Regions from separate parts of the Homo sapiens genome. Here regions 1, 2 and 3 are each linked to region 4. Evidence: fine-mapped expression QTL. A gene starts in region 4. Each other region holds a variant in brackets. All regions are shown on one strand. Distances are between the middles of the regions. Region 1 overlaps SRSF3 (serine and arginine rich splicing factor 3). Region 2 overlaps CPNE5 (copine 5). Region 3 holds the start of ETV7 (ETS variant transcription factor 7). Region 4 holds the start of KCTD20 (potassium channel tetramerization domain containing 20).

Region 1 (5,000 bases), 160 kb before region 4:
ACACTTCCGCTGGGCAGGTTTAGAGGTTTATTATCAGTCTGTGCATAACTAAAAGTTCAAAGCAAATTCAATTTTGCTTAAGGGAACATTGTAAAGTAACAATTCTTGGTATTACATGCCTCGTATGATCCATTTCAAACCATAGAGAATTACACCTTTGTGTCACTGTTTCAAGAGACAAACAGATTTGAACAGCTAAAACATCTTAAAAATGCACCAAGCTTATGAAGTCTCAAACAAAACTTGAATTTTCTGTACATACTCCTGTCAAATGAAGTAATTTCCTGTACACCACTTCTCTTGCAAACTGTCTTCTATTTCCTTTCATTTGACCTAGATCGACTAAAAAAAAAAAAAAAAAAAGAAAACAAAACATTACATCTGTAACTTGGTGACACTTTAGTGACATATCGAAATAGAACTTTAAGGTAAAAAATTTATGGCTTAGAAGACAGGCCTTAGCATACTATGTATGCAAAGTCTTAAATACAAGTTATCAAAGATCTTACCTACGAGACCTAGAGAAGGATCGGGACGGCTTGTGATTTCTCTCCCGAGACAGCGATCTCTCTCTTCTCCTATCTCTAGAAAGGGACCTAAACAAGCAAAAAAACATTAGGACCAATGAGGTATGATAAAATTATACATAAATATTTTCTTGATCTGGCATGGTGACTCATGCCAATAATTCCAATATTTTGGGAGGCAGAGGCAGGAGGCTCACTTGAAGCCAAGAGTTTGAGAACAGATTGGACAACAAAGTGAGATCCCATCTCCACAAAAAATAAATTAGCCAGGTATGGCAGTACTTGCCTGTAGTCCAAGCTACTCAGGAGGCTGAAGAGGGAGGATCACTCCAAGGCCAGGAGTTAAAGGCTACAGTGAGCTATAATCACACCACTGCACTCCAGCCTGGGTGACAGATCCTTTTTTAAAAAATTAAATACTTTCTAAAAAGCCTTTGAAAACTCAAAGAAAGCTGACTCATCCTTACAACTTGATTCACTATTAAAGCCAAGGTTTATTCCCATTAACTAAGCCACCTGGAAAAGTTTAGGAATAGCAGAAACACTGCCATTTCTAAGAACGTAGCCAAAAAAGGTAGTCATTTACCTGCTCCGGCTGCGAGAGAAGCTTCTCCTTCTTGGAGATCTAAAAGCAGAAACAGGAAAATTAGGCTCATCATCAATTAGTATTTATGGCGTGAGGCATTTCCCAACTTTTCAATCTCACTGTTGGGCCCAGTGAATGTGCCGAAGAACTGGCACCCATCGTCCAAAAAAAAAAAAAAAAAAAAAAAAAGAAAAAAAAGAAAAGAAAAAAAAGGCACAGAAGGATTAAGAAACAAAAAGCTCAAGTGAAAAGCAGGTATTCCAACCATGGATTCACTTTAACAAAGAATGCTTCACAGCAGATCTGTCCAATGCAAAACTTCATGTCAAACTAACTTCACTACCCAAACACCACACCAAAATATAGTCCCACAAGTAGTTCCAAAAACAGTACCATAAACCAGTATTTGGAACCCATGCAAACCTGTAAGTCCATGACAAGACTTAGGTACCAGGTGGATAGTGTAATTTTGTGAAAACGCGGTAGGTGTAAATATTGATGCCATTAAGTGCTACATTAGAACTGCATTTGTGATCGTCACATTTAAGAGTGTGTTTAGGCTTACCAAAATTACCTTAGCTTGGCCCACACTTCAACCCCAAAATTTTAAATTTTGAAACTGTTAGTAAAACCATTTAAAGGTGATAGGATTCAACAAATTTTTGCCAGAAAAGCTAATCTGTTAGAGATATTAAAATTTTTAGTTTGGCATCTTGCACATGCAAATAAGTTTCACTTGAAGGCCTAGTTACATTACGAGTTCCCTATCACCCTTAAAAGTTTTTCAAGCAATATATATGTACGTTACCATTCAATTATGCACAGCCAGCCTTTGATCCAGAAAAAAGAATTACTTTAAGCCGCTTACTCCTTATTTTAACCAGCAGTAAACTGTATAAGCAGGAAAAACTTACTAGTTTTGGGTTTCAACAAGCTAGAAATGGTGAGGTGAGGCTGCCGGACTGACGGCCAGGAAGAATTTGCTGAAAAGGTTTTGCCAGATGTTGCGTTGGATTTAGTTGGTTGGCGAAGGGGGTGTTGTGGATTTTTCCTGCTTTTTTGTTAGCCGAAGGCTGCTGCTGTAGTTGTTGTGAAGACATTTGGTAAATAAACAGCTGAGCTGATTGGCCAGGAATGTGTGGGCGGTCGAGGTGGCTGCTGCCGATTTGGTTAAGGTTGGAGAGAAGGCTGAGAGAAAACAGCATGCTCGGGAACCAAAGGGCGGTGCAACCTGACGACTGGCCAGCCTGGGTCATGTGAAACGACACCAGCCAAGCTGAATGGGGCGCGCTGGTCACATGACGCTGAAAGGGCTAGTTGACTGGCTAATGCAGATTCAGAGGGTGGTGAGAAGAGACATGATGGTGACTCTGTAACGGGGTTCATTTTTATTAATAGATGGACCAAAAAGCACAAAAAAAATGAAAAACAAGCCATCAGTACAACCATCTATTAGCTAACAAATACTCTTTATTATGATGGGCAACAGTGTGCTGTTGTTTTTCAAAATAGCAAAAGGGGCAAGATTTTGAACTCCTGTCTCCTAGAAGGACTCCACTCACCTGTAAGAGGTAAATTTAGTCCTATAGAAACTATTTTGGAGGTCTGAGGAGATGTGGAGTTAGCACCCAGACAATACTGCCTGGTCCAAGAATGATGCCATTTTCAATTATAAAAAAACTGAATTTTCTCCTATTTGGGATTGAAGAACAGATGACTGGGATTACTTCTTTTTTAGCCCCCTTTATTGGTCAGTGACTT[AAGTT/T]AGTCTCAGAATGATTTCTACTTTACCAGTTGTAACATTAAAACAGCTGCCTGTTTGATAAATATTACAATTGTGCTAATAGTAGAAAACACAAATTTGTGAAGAGCTAGAGTTGAATGTAATGTTTGTCATTATGGAGCCAAGAAATGGAAAAAGGCCTAAACTGAAGTATAAGGGAAGATTTGGAAAGATGCAACTAGAAAGATGAACTAGAAGACAGATCCAAGATAGAAGTTACTGACTACCAACATGAACAGTGACCTAAAGACAAAAGCCAACACTCAGCACAACTCACATACCCCAAATTACACCCAACAAATGTTTCACAGAAACCTCCGATTCTTCCAAAGTTTAAAACCCACCAACAAACTTAAGAGAAATACCTGCTCCTACTAGCTACTCCATTACACCAATACCTCTTAACAAGCTTTCTCTCAAGTACCTGCGACGAGGTGGAGGACTCCTCCTACGATAATCATCTCGAGGGCGACGACCCCAAGAGGGAGGTGGGCCACGATTTCTACTTCTTTTTTCACCATTCGACAGTTCCACTCTTACACGGCAGCCACATAGTGTTCTGAGGGGGCAAAGATATTAAACTTAAAACAGCCTGACTTTCTGACATGCGTATTAAAGCCAAAAGTACTCTCAGTTGGCTATTCTGCAAAGAACACACCTAAGTGTCTGTGCAATTTAACATCAAATTTCTAGCTCCCTTATTTTTACTAATATAAAATGAGCTTTGGCCAGGCACGGTGGTACACGCCTGTAATCCCAACACTTTATGAGGCCGAGGCAGGCGGATCACAAGGTCAAGAGTTCGACACTATCTTGGCCAACGTGGTGAAACCCTCGCTCTACTAAAAATACAAAAAATAGCCAGGTGTGGTGGTACATGCCTGTAATCCCAGCTACTCAGGCGGCTGAGGCAGGAGAATCACTTGAACCCAGTAGGCAGAGGTTACAACGAGCCAAGATCACACCATTGCACTCCAGCCTGGGGGACAGAGCAAGACTCTGTCTTGAAAAATAAAATAAGCTTGTTTCCCAGTTTCAAATTAAAATTTCAATTAATTTCAAATTAAACAAATAGGATTTTCTAAAGTACCAATTCACAAGGAAGTCAAATTCTATTTTATCACCTAATTGTTAGAGCCAGTCTGATTACTGAGCTCAATGTTAATTTGTTAACAGTTGCAATTTAAGTGTGAAGATCCATTTATCCTTGAAAAACAAGTTCTCCTGTATCTTCATTATGATTTCTTCCCTTGAAGTCCCTGCACTTATTTCAGTTATTTACCAGGCTGTATTTATTGGTCTCCCCCTGCCCCACTCCAAGTAAAAAATCAGTTCAAGACAAGACAGAACCATTTTGGCCATTTTACAGCACCCTCTCCCCTCAACAGTCAGCACAGAAGAAATTATAGCTGTGGCCAGGTGAGGTGGCTCATGCCTGTAATCCCAGCACTCAGAGAGGCTGAGGCAGGAGGATGGCTTGAGCCCAGGAGCTTGAGGCCAGCCTGGGCAACACAGACTGTCGTCTGTATTATTTTTTAAATAATAAATATACATTTTTTTAAAAAAAGAAATTATAGCTCACAGTAGTAAAAAAAAAAAAAAAAGACCATTATTCCTCACCCTTAATACAACCAGTCATTAAATTTAGATAAGCTATCATATTTGAAGAGTGACTGGGAAGAGGTGGGCCCTGGAAAACTTTACTACAACCTGCTTGAATTGACCAACCTTTCATGCAGCTTTACAGTGAACACTCAGCTCCTTTTTCCCATTATACTTCCAAATATGAGGAAAGGGGGGTGGGGGCATGGAGGTCAATACTCAGGCCTTACTCAGCCAGCTAACAGGACACTATTAACACAAAGGGAAATAGTAAGTGATTCACTTTCTGGAGTATTTCAAACACATAAAAGTAAAGGTACAACCAACCCATGTAACCATTTTGTAAACAATTTTTTAAACAAGGATCAGTTCACAACTACTCTTAAAAATATTTGATCCTGGCTGGGCACAGTGGCTCCCACCTGTAATTCCAGCACTTTGGGAGGTCAAGGCGGTCAGATCACCTGGGGTCAGGAGTTCGAGACCAGCCTGGCCAACATGG
Region 2 (5,198 bases), 350 kb before region 4:
TCAGTTCCCCTGAGTGGAGCCCCAGCCGAAGAACTTGCCCTCCTGGAGGGATGTGCTGGGGTGGACCGACTTCACGGACCTTGATCTGGTTGCCCACTTCACTGGGGAGCTGCACAGTCGGCTGGGATCTCTCACTCCCAGGGAGACCCCAGCCAAGGCATTTAAGGGGAGGTAGCCATGGGAAGGAGCCTGGGCAAGCTGCCAGCGAGGGCCCACCAGCCCTCCTGCCTTCCTCCCTCCCGTGACACATCAGAGTGGCTCAGAGCTGGACTGTCCCGGGACGCTGGGGGTCAGCTGGGTGTGAGGTGGGGTGGCTAGCCCATGAGGTCTTTTGCCCACAGAAGTGGTCTTTGGATGGAAAGTTTGAGAACCACTGGTCTGGAAGCCTCCGGGTGAGTCTGGATGCTTTTCCAATTCTAGGACTTTCACTGCAGGCACTACCCTTCCTGGTGGGCTCTCGGGGAGCAGGGGGTGGGGCAGCTCCAGGCTCGGGGACCCGGTCCCAGGAAGCAGTGCACTAGGCCACACTGCCACAAGGATCTCAGGAGACTCTGTCTTCTCAGGGGCTTTGGGGTGATCTGCTGGATGGTAGGGGGCGGGGGAGGATGGGCAGGGGGCTGATTGAGGGAGTGTCAGGTTTATGGCTCTGTCTTTGTCTGGCTTTCCATTCTTTCATCTTCTCCTCTCCCAGTGGTGTCCCAGGAAAGAAATGTGGCACCATCATCCTGTCCGCTGAGGAGCTCAGCAACTGTAGGGTGAGTGGCAGAGGACTCCAGCACAGGACGTGGTTGGGGTGGGGGTGATGGAGTGCAGGCTGGCCTCCCTGAGCCCCTGGAGGGAACCGAGGGTAGACAGGGCTCCTGATGCTGACCTGGCTGTCATAGAATTTTGCAACATCAGAGCTAGTGGGTGTTTTCCCTTTTTATAGCTGAGCAGACTGAGGCCCGGAGAGGAGAAGGAGCTCACCCACAGTCAGCAGCAGAGCCCAGCTGAGCCCCGTCCCCTAGCTCCCATGCCAGGGCTCCCTCCCCTCCCCATCACAGCCACCACTCACGTGTCCTTGAGCCGAGACTGCCTTGGCACCAACACTGTGGCAGCAAAGACCTTTTCAGTCTTGAAGGAAGCCTGGGTGCTTGACATTTAGCTGTCATTTTTCACTTTCAGCTCTGGAGTAGGGTGACACCCTGCATGGGGCGGATGGAGTGTGTCTGTGCGTACGCATGTGTTGGGAAGAAGTCTGCAGTCCCAGGCAGCCCTTGGTCTTGCTTTTACTGTAGGACTGTGGGGGAGCAGGAGATGGGGACAGCTGAGCACACAAAGAAGGGGCTCAGGGGACCTCATAATTAATAATAATGATAAAGTATCATAATGGTGATGGTCAGTATTTGTCAAGTAATAGGCACTTTACATAAGTTATCGCTGCTCTTGACAATCATCCTAAGAGGCAGGTACTAAAATGTTACTCCCATTCTATGGATGAGGAAATTGAGGCTCAGAGAGGCAAAGTCACCTGCTCAAGGATGACAAACAGCAGAGCCATGACTCTACTCCAGGTCAGCTTGATTCTAAGATCCGGGCTCAGCCCCAAAAGCACCACCATCTAACCTAAGAGTGGCTATAAAAGTGGGAAAGTGGTGGGGCTTGGAGAGAAGAGGAGGCTGGGACAGATGCAGGGAGAGGCAGGGTGCAAGTGTAAACAAAGCCTGGGCTACCCTGGGAACACAGCTTCCCATGGAGCTGGGAGGGATGACCAGGAGAAACAAGATTTTCCTACCTTCCTGGGAGGTCAGTGCTACGGATCAGCTATCAATCAATATTTACCCTACTAGAAATTTAAACAGAATTTTAATGTATGTATTAATTCCTTTAAAAATAATTTAATTCCTTTAAAAATAACAATAGTTGAACCCATTATGGGTCAACATAAATAACGCATTTTTTTTGGGGCCGGGCACGGTGGCTCACGCCTGTAATCCCAGCACTTTGGGAGGCCGAGGCGGGCGGATCACGAGGTCAGGAGTTTGAGACCAGCCTGGCCAGCATGGTGAAACCCCGTCTCTACTAAAAACACAAAAAATTAGTTGGGCCCGGCAGGCAGAGGCTGCAGTGAGCTGAGATTGGAATCTCGGCTCCTCTGCACTCCAGCCTGGGCGACAGAGCGAGACTCCATCTCAAAAAATAAATAAATAAAATAAGACATATTTTGAAAAACAACAATAACTCCCAATAATCATTTAATGAGAAGAGTGGCCTTGTTTTACATTTTTGCAAATCTCTTTAACGTCTGACTTAATGGAAGACATCTGGATTCTCATAGCTGCTTCTGTAGTCAATCTGTTGTGAAATCCCTGTCAGATAACCTCTGGAAAACTCTTCATCTTAGCATTATTATGTAAATAGTTTTGACCCCACGGATCCCTCGGGGTTCCTGGTCCATACTTTGAGAGCTGCTGGTATAGAGGTATAACAGTGTTAGAGAACATTAATTGAGTCATTATTTTGGGCCATACACTGTGGTAAGTGGTTTACATGTATTGACTTGCTTACCTAACATATTATAATATATAATGTAGTATGTAGTATGATGTGTTATAACATCTGATGAATTATGGTCCTCATTAATTTTCCTCACTTTTATAGATAAGGAAACTGAAGCACAGAGAGGTTAATTGATCGGTCCAAGGTCACACAGCCACTGAGTAGAAGAGATTTGAAACTTGGCAGTTTGGTTCTAGAGCCAAGGTCTTTAACCACTGGACTGTGGTGTTACAAACTCTGTTTCCAAGGACTTCCAGTGGAAGAATAAGACACACGAACACAGAATCGATAGTACAGGGCAGTCTAGAGATGACCAAAAAAATTCATATGTGACTGCTCACCCGGGTTGCTTATCTGTTAATCTCAGTGGATCTGAAGGCACTTGACAGCGGGAATGAACCCCACCCAGTGTGCACCCCCAGGGCAGGACTCGGGG[T/C]GCAGTAGGCATTCCCGAGGACCCATCACGAATATGTGACTGAATGATTAGGAAGCACAGACCGAGTGTTCAGCACCAGGTCATGGACAAAACACACGTGTCTGCTGAGGATCTGGATGCCACTGGAGTTCAGACAAGGGAGAGAATTCGGTTGCCCTGTGGAACAGAGCTGTTGCAGCTCCCAGAGCCTCCGTTTTCCACCTGCAGCTTGGCGCTGATAGGGTTGCTGTGAGGATTAAAGGAGTTCATGAATGTGAGTGTGTCTAACAGATGCCTAGGAAAGGGTGCATCTGAATTCCTTGAACCTAAATTCAGTGTTTCCCCAAGCTTCTAGCCCAGCTGGTGACTTTCTTCCTAGTTTATAACCAAATAAAGTCACATACATGAAAGCGCTTTGGAAATTCTAACGCTCTAGACAATGCTGGTGGCCGTTACTGGTCTAGCATTCCAGGGGTTGGTAAGCAGTCTTAGGTTGAATACCTATCAGGTGTTAAACCCTTCCTCTTCCTCCTTCTTCCCCAGTCCTCCCTACTCCTTCACCCAGGGATAGCAGCAGTTTTCTTGATTTAAGCTGTTCCAGCACCAGGGGTCTATGTCGGGGGCAGGGAGCGCCCTCCCTTCCTCCTGAGATTGTCAGCTCCTTTTCTTCTGGGGCATCTTTAGCTGAGTTCTGTCTCTCCCTAGAATCCTTGCAAGGAAAAGAGACTAATTCCCAGCATCTGGCTGAATTAAAATAATTACATCTGAACAGCTTTGCTTCGTCTTTCCAGCTCAGCATTCAGTGGGAGGATCAAAGGAAGAGGGTGGGGTCTGAGAGATGATTTTTCACCAGAGCAGGGCTTCCTGCTCAAATGAATACATTTTGCCGAAGTAGACAAACCCTCTCTTCATCCATGGGGATGACGTGGGCGGGTGGGAACCAGCAAAGGATGACAGTGGACTCCAGTGTGTCACCAGCATAGTTTGACAGGTTATAGAAAAGCCTTGTTCATCTGGAATTTAAATGTCAAAGAAGTTCCCACAATCAGAATTTGATCCAAATACTATCGAATGGTACTTGATGTTGACAGTCATGAGGTTGGTCTCCCGAAGGGCCTTCTGAATCACCCAAGGTTCAATTCTGCTCAGCAGTAAAACGATTGTTACTGCCTGTAATACAGCAGTAAAACGATTGTTACTGCCTGTAATACTGGCCAACATTGGTTTACCGAGACCCTCTTATTTAGTCTTATTTGATTCTGACTGCAAGGCTGGGGGGCTGGGTGGGTGTGAGTAACCCTGTTTTACGGATGCAGAGAAGTTAGTGGTCTGCCTAAGATTGCTGGGATTCTAGCTCAGGCCTTGGAACTCCTAATCCTCAGTCTTTCCCTCACCCCTGGAGCCTCGAGCCCTCACGGTACAGGGAACAGTCACCGACCTTCTGTCCCTTGTGGGGCTACTGCCCTCAGCAGGCAGGGTGGCTTTGAGCAGTGGAGGTTGGGGTTCACGCCTATAATCCCAGCACTTTGCGAGGCTGAGCAAGGCAGGAGAATAGCTTGAGCTCAGGAGTTCGAGACCAGCCTGGACATCATAGTGAGACCCCCCCCCGACCATCTCTACAAAAAAATTTTTTTAAATTAGCAGGGTGTGGTGGTGCACGCCTGTGGTCCCAGCTAATCAGGAGGCTGGGGTAGGAGGGTCACTTGAGCTTGGGAGGTCAAAGCTGCAGTGAACCATGATTGCACCAGTGCACTGAAGCCTGGGGAACAGAGTGAGACCCTGTCAAAAAAAAAAAAAAAAGAAAAGGTAGGGGTTGTTGTCAATACAGAGGGTTGGATAGCTCTTTGCCCTCCACTTCCCAGCCCCTTGGTTCCCCCTAGAGACCTGTCAGCCACCCAGACCTGCCTTGCTCTGGAGTCAGGACTTCCCGGCTCAGGATAGTACGTCTTTACCACCTCCTAGTCAGGTCCTTCCACCTGACTGGCCGTCCCAGCCAGGATGGTGGCGGTGGTCATGGAGGAGGCAGTGATGGAGGAAGAAGGGTGTGCCTCATCTCTCTCCTGCAAAGGGAGTTATAACTTCACACCATAACTGCCCCGGGGGCCTCCCCACCCCTTAGGTGTCACCAGCGTGCTCATGTATTCTTTCATTTCAGTTCAGGAAATATGCTTTGACTGAGTCCCTGCTGTCCCAGAATTTTTAATTTAGTATGAGAGATGGAAATGCCAACCGGCAATCACATGAG
Region 3 (5,198 bases), 54 kb after region 4:
CCTATTGCTGGATGGTTTTGCTATTATTGGTTGGTGGGCCCTTTGCCTGTGGAATGTATTTCACTCATTCTCTCCTGCACGCTGTTAGGCAGTTCTTTCACCTGCATGCTTCTTCTTTTACCTTTTTGTCTACCTCATAGTCCCTCTCTCCCCTCCTTTAAAAGAATTATAAATATTAGGAAAGCTTGTTGTTATAAATTAAAAGTTTACATATGTATCTTGAGTTCTTCATAGGGGAAGTGTTATTTTAAAAAATTCTAAAAATGAAATAAATATTGTTATTTTATTGAGCATGAAACCCCTGTGCATATTTCTTTTTTGAAGGAGGAACCCCACAGCAGGGTCTAGCCACTTATTCCTGCTCATATTGGTTTGTAGACTTTGATTATACATAGCATTGACTTTGTCCTTCCAAAGGGAAATGTCTCCATTTTTTAGTCTGTCGCAGGCAGTGCATATTTATTTCTATTATTACTTAGGTTCTGGCTGACTAGCCCTAAAACTGTCTTTTTAAAATTTATTTTGAATAGGTTTTTATTTATATGATTCAAAAATCAAAACAAGGCCAGGCACAGTGGCTCACGCCTGTAATCCCAGCACTTTGGGAGGCCGAGGTGGGCAGATCACGAGGTCAAGAGATTGAGACCATTGTGGCCAGCATGGTGAAACCCTGTCTCTACTAAAAATACAAAAATTAGGTGGGTGTGGTAGCACGCACCTGTAGTCCCAGCTACTCGGGAGGCTGAGGCAGGAGAATCGCTTGAACCCAGGAGGCGGAGGTTGCAGTGAGCCGAGATCATGCCACTGCACTCCAGCCTGGCGACAGAGCAAGACCCCATCTCAGAAAAAAAAAAAAAAATCACAACCATGTGAAAAGGTTTACAACAAAAACCCTTTCTATTATTTTCTACTCTAAATTCCAGTTATGCTTATTAGTTTTTATGTATCCTTCCAGAGGTTCTTTGTATAAATACTAATTAATACATACATACATACATACACACACACACACACACACACGTATATTTACATACAAGAGGTAGCATGTAATACACACTGTTTTGTACCTTGATTTTTTTACTTAGCGTGGGTGTTCAGGCACTGTTCTGGGTGTTTTATAAAAGTTAACTTACTTATTCATAACAACCTTATGGGATAGGTATTATTATTTGCTCTTTTTTACTGTTAAAAAATTGAGGCAGTAGTTAGTAGAGGGAGGCAGTAGAGTGGTTAACACAAACTTGCTCAAGGGCACACAGCCAGTAAATGACATGGCTGGGATTCCAAACCAGGCAGGTGTTCCTAAGTCTAGATTATTATCCACTATGCCATACTGCCTCTTGGAGAGCTTGCCATGATCCACAGAGAACTCCATAAAGTGTTGTATTGTATTCAGTTAAATGAATGTACATAATTTGGCTGGGTGTGGTGGCTCACATCTGTAATCCCAGTGATTTGGGAGCTGAGGTGGGAGATCACTGGAGCCCAGGAGTTGGAGGTTAAGGTGGGCTTTGATGGCACCACTGCACTCCAGCCTGGGCGACAGAGTGAGACCCTGTCTCTAAAAAAAAAAAAAAAATAGAAAATTAAAATTAAAAGAAATGAATGTGCATTAGTTTATCAAGCCTCCTTTTGTGGACACCTGAGTTATTTCTCATACTTTGCTATTATAAACCATGATTAAATAAGTAACTATGTATACTTTGGATATTTGTTGAATAAATTTCTGGTAGGCAGATTGCTGGGTGAAAGGAAAATGCATTTGTAAATTTGCCAGACCCCGCTGTGGGGTTGCACCACTTTACCTCAGCTTTTCCAGCAGATTATGTTAGTAAACTTTTAAATTTTTGCCAAATTTATGGGTAAAAATTTCTATCTCAGAATAACTTTAATTTGCACATTTAAAATAGTGAGTTTGTCTGAGCATCTTTTTCTTTCTCTGCTGCCCAGGCTGGAGTGCAGTGGCACAGTCACGGCTCACTGCAGCCTCCAACTCTCAGGCTCAAGCGATCTTCCATCCTCAGCCTCCTGAATAGCTGGGGCTACAGGTGTAGCCCCA[C/A]CATGCCCGGCTAATTTTTTAAATTTTCAGTAAAGACAGGATCTCACCATGTTGTTCAGACTGGTGTCCAACTCCTGGGCTCAAGCGATCCTCCCACCTTGGCATCCCAAAGTGCTGGGATTACAGGCATGAGCCACTGCACCCTGGGCATCTTTTTGTATATTCAGGAGCCATTTGGCATTTCCTTTTATGTGGACTGTTTATTCATATCCTTTGCTCATTTTTTTTTCCTACTGGGTTTCTGGCCTTGTTCTTACTGGTTTCTTATTGCTGGCCTAGAGCTTGTGATGATATACCAGTGCTAAGCCTACTTTGTAACAGCGTCTACACCCTCAGATTTTCAGCAGAAGGTTGTTAATGCTTTTCTTTCCTTTTCTTCGGTGTCTTCTGGTTTGTTTTTATGCGCACAACCTCTCTTGAGACAGGGGGAGCTGAGACAGATGGAAAGGGTGATGGGTGGGCAGGCACCAACCCCGGAGCACCCAGAGGCCCAGGAAAAGGTGTCAGTCGGGATCTCCGAGTAGTCTGGCCCTGCTCAGGAGAGCACAGCCGCTCTGATGGTGGTGCGACGGTTCCGGACCTGTGGGGCCTCAGCGGGGCCAAACGGCAGGCCGAGACAGTATCGGGGCCGGGAAGGTCACTCACCCCTAAAGGGAGAGGCACCATGCGAGGCCCCTTCCTATCCTATGTGCGGAGACTCACAGGGTCCTTCCTGGTCCTGGGCTCGGGACCGTGAGAGACGCAGTTGGTTCCGAGTTCAGGACTAGGGGTCCCCTTAGATCCTCAGATCCTGCAGAATCCCGGCTCTGCCCCAGTGGGAGCCAAGGCCAGGTCGCCAGAGGGACTGTCCGCCGGCTGGAGGCTGTGTGCAGGACCCACGCCTCCCAGGCTAGCGAGCGGGCAGCGCCCCGGTGCTGCGCTCCCACGGGGCCGGCCCCTGCCCTGCCCTGCCCTGCTCCTAGCCCGCAGCGGCGCAAGTGGAACCGCATCCCGCTCTTTCGTTTTCGTTTCCCGGAAGGATAGCGATTACCGGAGCGCCTCGCGCGCCTGCCCGCCTGCGGAGGACCCGGGCGCACACGCCTTGGCGCTTCTCGAAAGAGATTTCCTCCCACGCGACCTTCCAGTTCTCGGAGCCAGGTTAGGGGTTTGGCGGAGGAGGACTGCGGGGCGCGGGCCTAGGGCCCCAGCAGCCACAGCCAGGGGAGCGCTCAAGACAGAAAGCCGGTGGCTTCCTCACCTCCACCTGTAATGCAGGTAAGAGCCTGGCGGCTGAACACGCAGCGCGCACGCAGAGCCACCTGCTCCCGCATCCTTTCCTCACCACCTAGATTTCCAAACCTATTTTATCAGACCTTTTACCTGGCGGGAATCTCTCTTTCCAACACATTCCTAAACCTCACATCCATCCCTCACTCACTTCCCCTTCCACCTCCAGACGCGGGTCACCGCCCCTGACTCTCTCGGTGTCATACACAGCTCTGAAGGCATCACGCACAGCCCCTGCGGGCCCTTTCCGCAGCCCCCTTACCACTGGTCGCCCCTACACCAACCAGATGTGAGGTCTTTGGAAGTTCGTGCGCCAGCCAGGTCCTCACAGCTGGTGAACGCATTCTCGCAGGGAGCCCCTCTTTAGCAGCCTCTCCCCACTCGCCGGTTTTCTAGGTGCCTCGAGACTGCCCCCAGAGCTGGCGCCCCGTCCCACTCCAAGGCCTTTCTCCACTCCCCTCTCGCCAGGACCCATACCCATTATCAGACCCTTCCCTGGCCTCCATGCTGAAACCCAGGAGTCTGATCCTCAGCAGCTCCGTGGCTGGCGTTTCCCAGGCAGTTACAGCCTCGGAATTCCCCGCTCCTCTTACTTGGATGAGGACAGAGGAGTAGACAAAGAGCCTCCTGCAAGCCTCCTTGGCAAGTCCGAGGCAAGTCCTGTGCCTTGAGCCCCTTCTCCAGCAAGGCAAGCTTCCCTTTCCCCACCAGGAGGCAACCCCTGAGGTCTGATTACTTGGGAAACAGCACCAAAGGGGGACCGGCTGGAAATGAAGTGAGAACGACCCGGAAAGGTGTTGAATCCCCTTTCGCAGCAGCCAAGGCTTCTGGAGTTTGCTTTGCTGGCTCCGATCCAAATTCTCTCTCGGCAGATATCTCTCCTCGGATCCCAAGAGATGAATGTAAAGCTTTTGACAATCCTAGAGTGAAAAATGACTTGATGGAGCTGGTTTCACTTTTCCTTTCCGTGCTGTGGCAGCCTGTGGCTGGGCATGAGCCCGAAGGAGCTTCCTATTCCTACAAAATCCTGCCACTTTCTTCATTTTCTCATCTGAATGGATGAACCCCGTCATCTCTGGGGGCCATGCTGATTGTTGAATTGTAAAGATACAGGCTTCCCGTGGTGAGACCTTAGGATTCAGAAATGTATCCTTATCCTTTCTTTTTCTCTTTTGAAAATAGTGTTTGTTTGTTCTGAGACGGAGTCTTGCTCTCTTGCCCAGGCTGGAGTGCAGTGGCGTGATCTTGGCTCACTCCAACTTCCGCTTCCCGGGTTCAAGTGATTCTCCTGCCTCAGCCTCCTGAGTAGCTGGGATTACAGGCGCCGGTCACCACGCACGGCTAATTTTTGTATTTTTCGTAGAGATAATGTTTCACTATGTTGGTCAGGCTGGTCTCAAACTCCTGACCTCAAGTAATCCACCCGCCCCAGACTCCCAAAGTGTTGAGATTATAGGTGTGAGCCACCGCACCTGGTCTATTTGTTTATTTCTGATTTAAGGTCTTTTGATCCTGGCCCCTCAGGTTTCCTGTGTTGTCCTCACCAGGGATCCAGTGAGGATTCCTAGGCTTTCAGATTTCAATCATACAAGTCTTGGCAGGGGATCCCTCTTGGAGTTAGGCACATGCATGGAAAGCTTGAATTGGAAGGATGTCATTTATTGTGTCCACTGGGTACAAAATGTTGATGGTACTGAGTTGAAGATATACATGGTTCCTACCTTTAAGGTTGATGCAGTCTTCTGGTGGAGATAAACACTCTTTCCCTTCCAAAAAAATTCTTAAGACATTTAAAGATGGCTGAGCCTTCACCAAGATGCTCTTCTTTGACTGTCCTGGTTTTTCTCTCTCTAGGAGGGAGAATTGGCTATTT
Region 4 (5,176 bases):
TACAGGTGCCCACCACCATGCCTGGCTTATTTTTGTATTTTTAGTAGAGACAGGGTTTCACCAGGTTGGCCAGGCTGGTCTGAAACTCCTGACCTCAGGTGATCCATCTGCCTCGGCTTCCCAAATTGCTGGGATTACAGGCATGAGCCACCACGCCCGGCTTCTGTTACAGAATTTAAGACTGACCTAACTACTACAGTTAGGCCTAATACAATGTATTTCTTAACTTCTTAAGGAAAACGAGATTATTGGAATAGTACGTGTATTTCTGGCATAACAGGAAGGAACAAATTGTGGATGAATAAAGAGAACCTTTTGGCAGCAGTGGAGTTTATCCAGCCCTCATTTCTGCCTCAAAGGAGGAATGCAACTCTGTGCCAGAAATATGTGTCTATATTGCAATGCTGTTGATAAAACAGCCTACTACAGTGCTTTGAGGAAAATAGGCATTACGCAGGTATTTGATGACTAAATTAACGTCCAGCTGAACTGAAAGCCCTCATAATGCTACTAGTACTGCTACATACCAGATAATATGACAGTCAAGGCCATGGGAATTATATGGCATTGGCTGCCCTGGTTCCATGGGGAGACTTGAGTGAGCTGGGCGGAGGAGATTTGGCCTAATGGCATTAAGCTCTGATGATACTAGAAGCAGCCCTCAGAAGGAAAAGATTAATGGGCTATCTCTAAACCATCAGAGCAATATCGGAATATGCATGAAAATCATTTCCTACCCCGTGTCAGGGTCAAAAAAAGCACTATCTTTTCTCATATTGGCTTCTGGAGAGTCAGGGCTTCTTGTCCTACGACTGGTTTAGGGCAGGGGAGGAAAACATCGACAAAGGGTTAAGGCTGTTGGGCAGTTTTTAAAATTCCCAGCCCAGCCTAAAGGTGGTGTCTGTCAACGTGTGGTCGGTCCCTGGATCATCAGTAACAGACCAAGAGTGCAGGTGCTTGCTTAAATCCCAGACTCAGGGACCCATCACAAATCTCTAGAATCAAATTTATGGAAGAGGTGCTAGGGTACTGCAACCTTATTACTAAGGAACAATCTTCTGTTTCAGAACTATGGCCTAGGAATTGGGGTTTCAGGTGGGGGCCTTGAGCGGAAGTCCTCTGACTCTGGATTCATCACATCCGACAGACACTACTACAACACTTTGTTTTGAAGACCATTAAAAAACTACCTCAACTTCTCGCACAGCGAACAGGAACAAAACTAAGGACTCTGGGACATATTTTCATAAGCTGGTTAAACAGTTCCTTCACAGCCTTGTTTATCATGTTAGTTTGTTCACTAGATTCTTATTTAAAAATAAATCTCTTCAACTGAGGAATTTTCAGAAAGAATCACAAACTCCAAAATAGAAGAGTTTTCTCATAGTGCAGAACTGGGCTTCTAAACCTGAAGACACTGCTATAAAAAGCAAAGTTTTATTTAAAAGAAAATTGCTGGTTAAGGCTTTCCCCAGCTCTTTTGCACTCAGAGCCACGGATGAAAGCTGGCAATTTGCGGGTGGCAGGGAAGGAAGACGCGGAAACAGGGCTGAAAAGACCGAGCAAAATGCGCTCGGCTCCAGAGTTCAGGAGGAAGTCCCCACCAACTACCTAATTTTTAATGGAGCCAATTAATTGCCAGAAAAACCGCGTCTGCAAATGTTTTGCCAGTCAACACTCCAGGTTCTCGCCATTCCTCTCCGGCGGGATGAACCACCCGAGGCCTGCAAAAAGCAGTCAAGCAGTCAAGTTACACTTCAGCTGTGCCCACCACCTGGGCGCAGCGTCGCCTCCCTCCCCAGGATCACCAGACTCTGCCCTCCGCGCGGAAACAGGAGCCCATCAAGCCGCTGCCCACAGGTTCCTCGCGCCCAGCTCAGCCCCGCGGCCTTTCGACTCGGGGGTCCGAACCGCCGCCGCGTCCGGAGGAGACGCCCCCTCGGCCACAAAGGGAAGACTCGGGCCACGCCCGCCGCCACACTCTCCCTGCCCGGTCTTCGCGCCCGAAACCGTACCGCGCCGCCACTTACTCGTCGCTCCCCGCCGCGCTGTCCCGCTCGGGGCTGGAATCCGCCCGGGAGGCGCGCGCAGGCCGCGCAGCCAGAAGCCGCAGCCGGGACCGGCTGTGCCGCAGCGGCGCGCGCCCCCCGCCCCGGACCGCGCGGCCACGCGGCTGAGTCACCCAGCGCTTCACGTTAAGAGTCCCCTCCGCGCGTGGCACGCCGGGAAGGCCGTGTCTGGGGACCCCGTCCGGGGCCGCACCGTAAATGGGTGTCGCCTTTCCTCCAGTCCACTCTGCACCCAACCTCAGCGGGCGCACTTTTCTGAGTTGCGCATACCCTCTCAATTATTAAAGGTTGCAGACGGAAAAGTTAGTAGTTTTCGGAATTGTAGAATACGCTCGTGCAGCGCCAGGACGGCTAATGCTTACCCGAAAATGTGGAACCCTGATCTCCCCATGCGTGGAGCGAGGTTGGAGGTAGCGTAGTAAGAATACTGGAGTTGCTTAAACGCATTTGCTCGAAAGTCACTACCCTGGATATACATTCTGGCCAAAAGAAAGGGGGAAAAACTCCACATTTTTCTCAAATACTGAGTTTCATGAAGGTACCTGCTATTACAAAGGTGTATTACAAATTTTAAATCAACCGGAAGCAAGTTACTGGGAAAACTGTGTTATGAGTAAAAGATTTCAGCATTCAAAAAACATCTATATATGGTCCATGTCCTATGAACCAAATGCTGGAAAACCCAAAAGGAAGTTCTTATTGTCACGGTTTCTAGTGGCTTTTGTACTTTTAAAAATTACACTAGGCCGGGCTTGGTGGCTCACGCCTGTAATCCTTGCACTTTGGGAGGCCGAGGCGGGCAGATCACCTGAGGTTGGGCATTCCAGACCAGCCTGGCCAACATGATGAAACCCTGTCTCTGCTAAAAATACAAAAATTAGCCGGGCGTGGTGGTGGGCGCCTATAACCCTAGCTGTTTGGGAGGCTGAGGCAGGAGAATCACTTGAACCCAGGAGGCAACTGGGAGGTTGCAGTGAAGTTCCCTCTCAAATATATATATATATGTCTATATATACTAATTAAATATACTGATTATGCAAACTATTTGTAAATTGTTGAAAGCTCTATAAACTAATAATAGCACAAATTTTAAAATTCGAAGTCGATTCTCCTTTTCCTTACAAGAGACTCTCTGAAAACTAATTTGGAATTGGATTAGAATTGGTGTTGAAGTGGAAGGAATGTAAGAAAATAGTTTGACTCAGTAGGTTTCACACGGTTAACGGATACTTGTATAGCAAATTTGTTTTATCAGGGTCAAAAAATTTAATTTTCAAAACTGAAGACATAAATTTTTTCATTATAATTTGGTCTTAGAGGCCTAGAGGGTCATTTTCCATTTCTATTCTCCCTCGTTTATGACTATAAAGTATGCAGGACTGTATTGTGTTTATCTCAACATGGACTAGGCTGTGAGGCTGCACTCGTCATCTGTAAGTCAGTCTCACGTCCCCATGGTGACTCAGCTTCCCTGCTGCTTGCGTCAGTGGCTCTGCCCTCCCAGCACTTCCGGGCTGGCAGAAGAGCTAGATTGGAGAATCCTGTAAGGGCTCTCCTTTGCCTCTGCCAGAAGTGAGTGGCCTTTTCACTTCTGCTGACGTTTCACTGTCCTGAACTAGTCACCAGGCTCAACCTGACTGACTCTAAGAAGGCTGTGAGATATAAATTCCTGTATGCCTGGAGAAAAGGAATATGAAAAAAGATTTAGTAAACACATGGCTATAAACCAATTTGAGTGAGTTATAGGCTCCAAACTTTACAACAGTAGCAGCATAGAGGATTGTTCAAACTAATGCCTTTATTTCCATTTTTATAAAGTACAGTGTTACAGCCTTTGAGTCAAAGAAAAATAAAAAACCTTCTGATATTCCTGCAAAACAGTTCTTGAAACAAATTCTTCCTTTCTGGAAAGATTCCTTCCCGTAGATTTGTATATTGTCTTTCTTTTTTTTTTTTTTTTTCTTTTTGTGGAGAATGGAGTTCTTATTCTGTTGCCCAGGCAGGTCTTGAACTCCTAGGCTCAAGCTATCCTCCTGCTTCTGCCTCCCTAAGTTTGGGGATTACAGGCATGAGCCACTGCACTGGCTGCAGATTTGTGGTATACAAAAATCTGGCCTGAAGTTTGGAGAATCAGGCTAACTACCGAGTCTTATTATTATTTTTTAAACACTTTCATTTTGGAAATTAAAGCATACAGAAAGATATAATAAACACCCGTTATCCATCATCCAAAATAAATAAGTGATAACATGACTTTTAATAGTTAATGGTTCAACTTTTGGCTAAAATTTCATATAATGAACAGCATATCAGACTGGGTACCTTTTTTGGGCAGACATCAAGGAGACGGGATATGAGAAATGTATATTCACAGAAAGCATAGGTGTTTGCTGGTTTTTATCATTTTATTTCTAATTTAATGTAGGTATCTCAAGACCCCGAGTCTCTGATATTTATTTGTATCTGAAACCAAAACCTTCTTCTTTTTTTTTTTTTGAGACAGTGTCTCCCTTTGTTGCTCAGGCTGGGTGATCACCACTCACTGCAGCCTCGATCTTCTGGACTTAATCCCCCTCCCAGGTTCACGCCATTCTCCTGCCTCAGCCTCTCGAGTAGCTGGGACTACAGGCGCCCGCCACTGTGCCCGGCTAATTTTTTGTATTTTTAGTAGAGATGGGGTTTCACCATGTTAGCCAAGATGGTCTCGATCTCCTGACCTCGTGATCCACCCGCCTCGGCATCCCAAAGTGCTGGGATTACAGGCGCAAGCCACCACGCCCGGTCAAGGTTGACTCTTAAGAATAAAAATATTTTTTAAATAATAGCTATTGTAAATTGTCATACAAAAAGCTAATCCTCATTTCTACCGACTAAGCTTATGTAGTAAATATAAAAACAAACCAAAAATCCCTAGATTTTGAACTGTCTCTCTCGAATAATTAAATTTGCTAAATGTTCGTTTTCTTTTGTTTTCTGAGACAGAGTCTTGCCCTGTCACTCAGGCTGGAGTGCAGTGGTGGGATCATGGCTCACTGCAACCTCAACCTCCTGGGCTCAAGTGATCCTCCCACCTCAGCCTCCTGAGTAGCTAGGACTACAGGTGCAGG

The links. PIP is the estimated chance that this variant, and not a neighbour inherited with it, causes the effect. A credible set is the group of variants that fine-mapping cannot tell apart.
Region 1: its variant is the best candidate, but not a certain one, in a credible set for the expression of KCTD20 in whole blood (TOPMed, PIP 0.81).
Region 2: its variant is the best candidate, but not a certain one, in a credible set for the expression of KCTD20 in blood mononuclear cells (TOPMed, PIP 0.55).
Region 3: its variant is the best candidate, but not a certain one, in a credible set for the expression of KCTD20 in subcutaneous fat (GTEx, PIP 0.80).

What each region holds. Positions count from the first base shown.
Region 1 is chr6:36,597,304-36,602,303 of GRCh38, reverse strand. SRSF3 (serine and arginine rich splicing factor 3) reads right to left here. Exons shown (of 6, transcript NM_003017.5): 3 at 3,321-3,455; 4 at 1,114-1,152; 5 at 510-596; 6 at 1-342. The coding sequence ends at 315. Among named protein-coding and RNA genes, the nearest start is that of SRSF3, 5.4 kb to the right of the region's middle. RefSeq lists enhancers at 1,855-2,354, 2,355-2,856, 4,638-5,000. The variant AAGTT/T (reference allele first, on the strand shown) is at 2,875.
Region 2 is chr6:36,787,590-36,792,787 of GRCh38, reverse strand. CPNE5 (copine 5) reads left to right here. Exons shown (of 21, transcript NM_020939.2): 8 at 692-755. Among named protein-coding and RNA genes, the nearest start is that of CPNE5, 49 kb to the left of the region's middle. The variant T/C (reference allele first, on the strand shown) is at 2,975.
Region 3 is chr6:36,385,651-36,390,848 of GRCh38, reverse strand. It overlaps ETV7 (ETS variant transcription factor 7), which reads left to right and starts at 3,180. Exons shown (of 8, transcript NM_016135.4): 1 at 3,180-3,313; 2 at 5,180-5,198. The coding sequence starts at 3,308. It overlaps PXT1 (peroxisomal testis enriched protein 1), which reads left to right. Exons shown (of 5, transcript NM_152990.4): 5 at 1-298. ETV7-AS1 (ETV7 and PTX1 antisense RNA 1) reads right to left here and starts at 4,229. Exons shown (of 2, transcript XR_926758.3): 1 at 3,919-4,229. RefSeq lists a silencer at 2,950-3,159 and an enhancer at 3,286-4,109. The variant C/A (reference allele first, on the strand shown) is at 2,060.
Region 4 is chr6:36,439,966-36,445,141 of GRCh38, reverse strand. It overlaps KCTD20 (potassium channel tetramerization domain containing 20), which reads right to left and starts at 2,142. Exons shown (of 8, transcript NM_173562.5): 1 at 2,031-2,142. PXT1 (peroxisomal testis enriched protein 1) reads left to right here and starts at 2,288. Exons shown (of 5, transcript NM_152990.4): 1 at 2,288-2,607. RefSeq lists enhancers at 1,025-1,084, 1,690-1,789, 3,274-3,821 and silencers at 1,950-2,239, 3,398-3,467.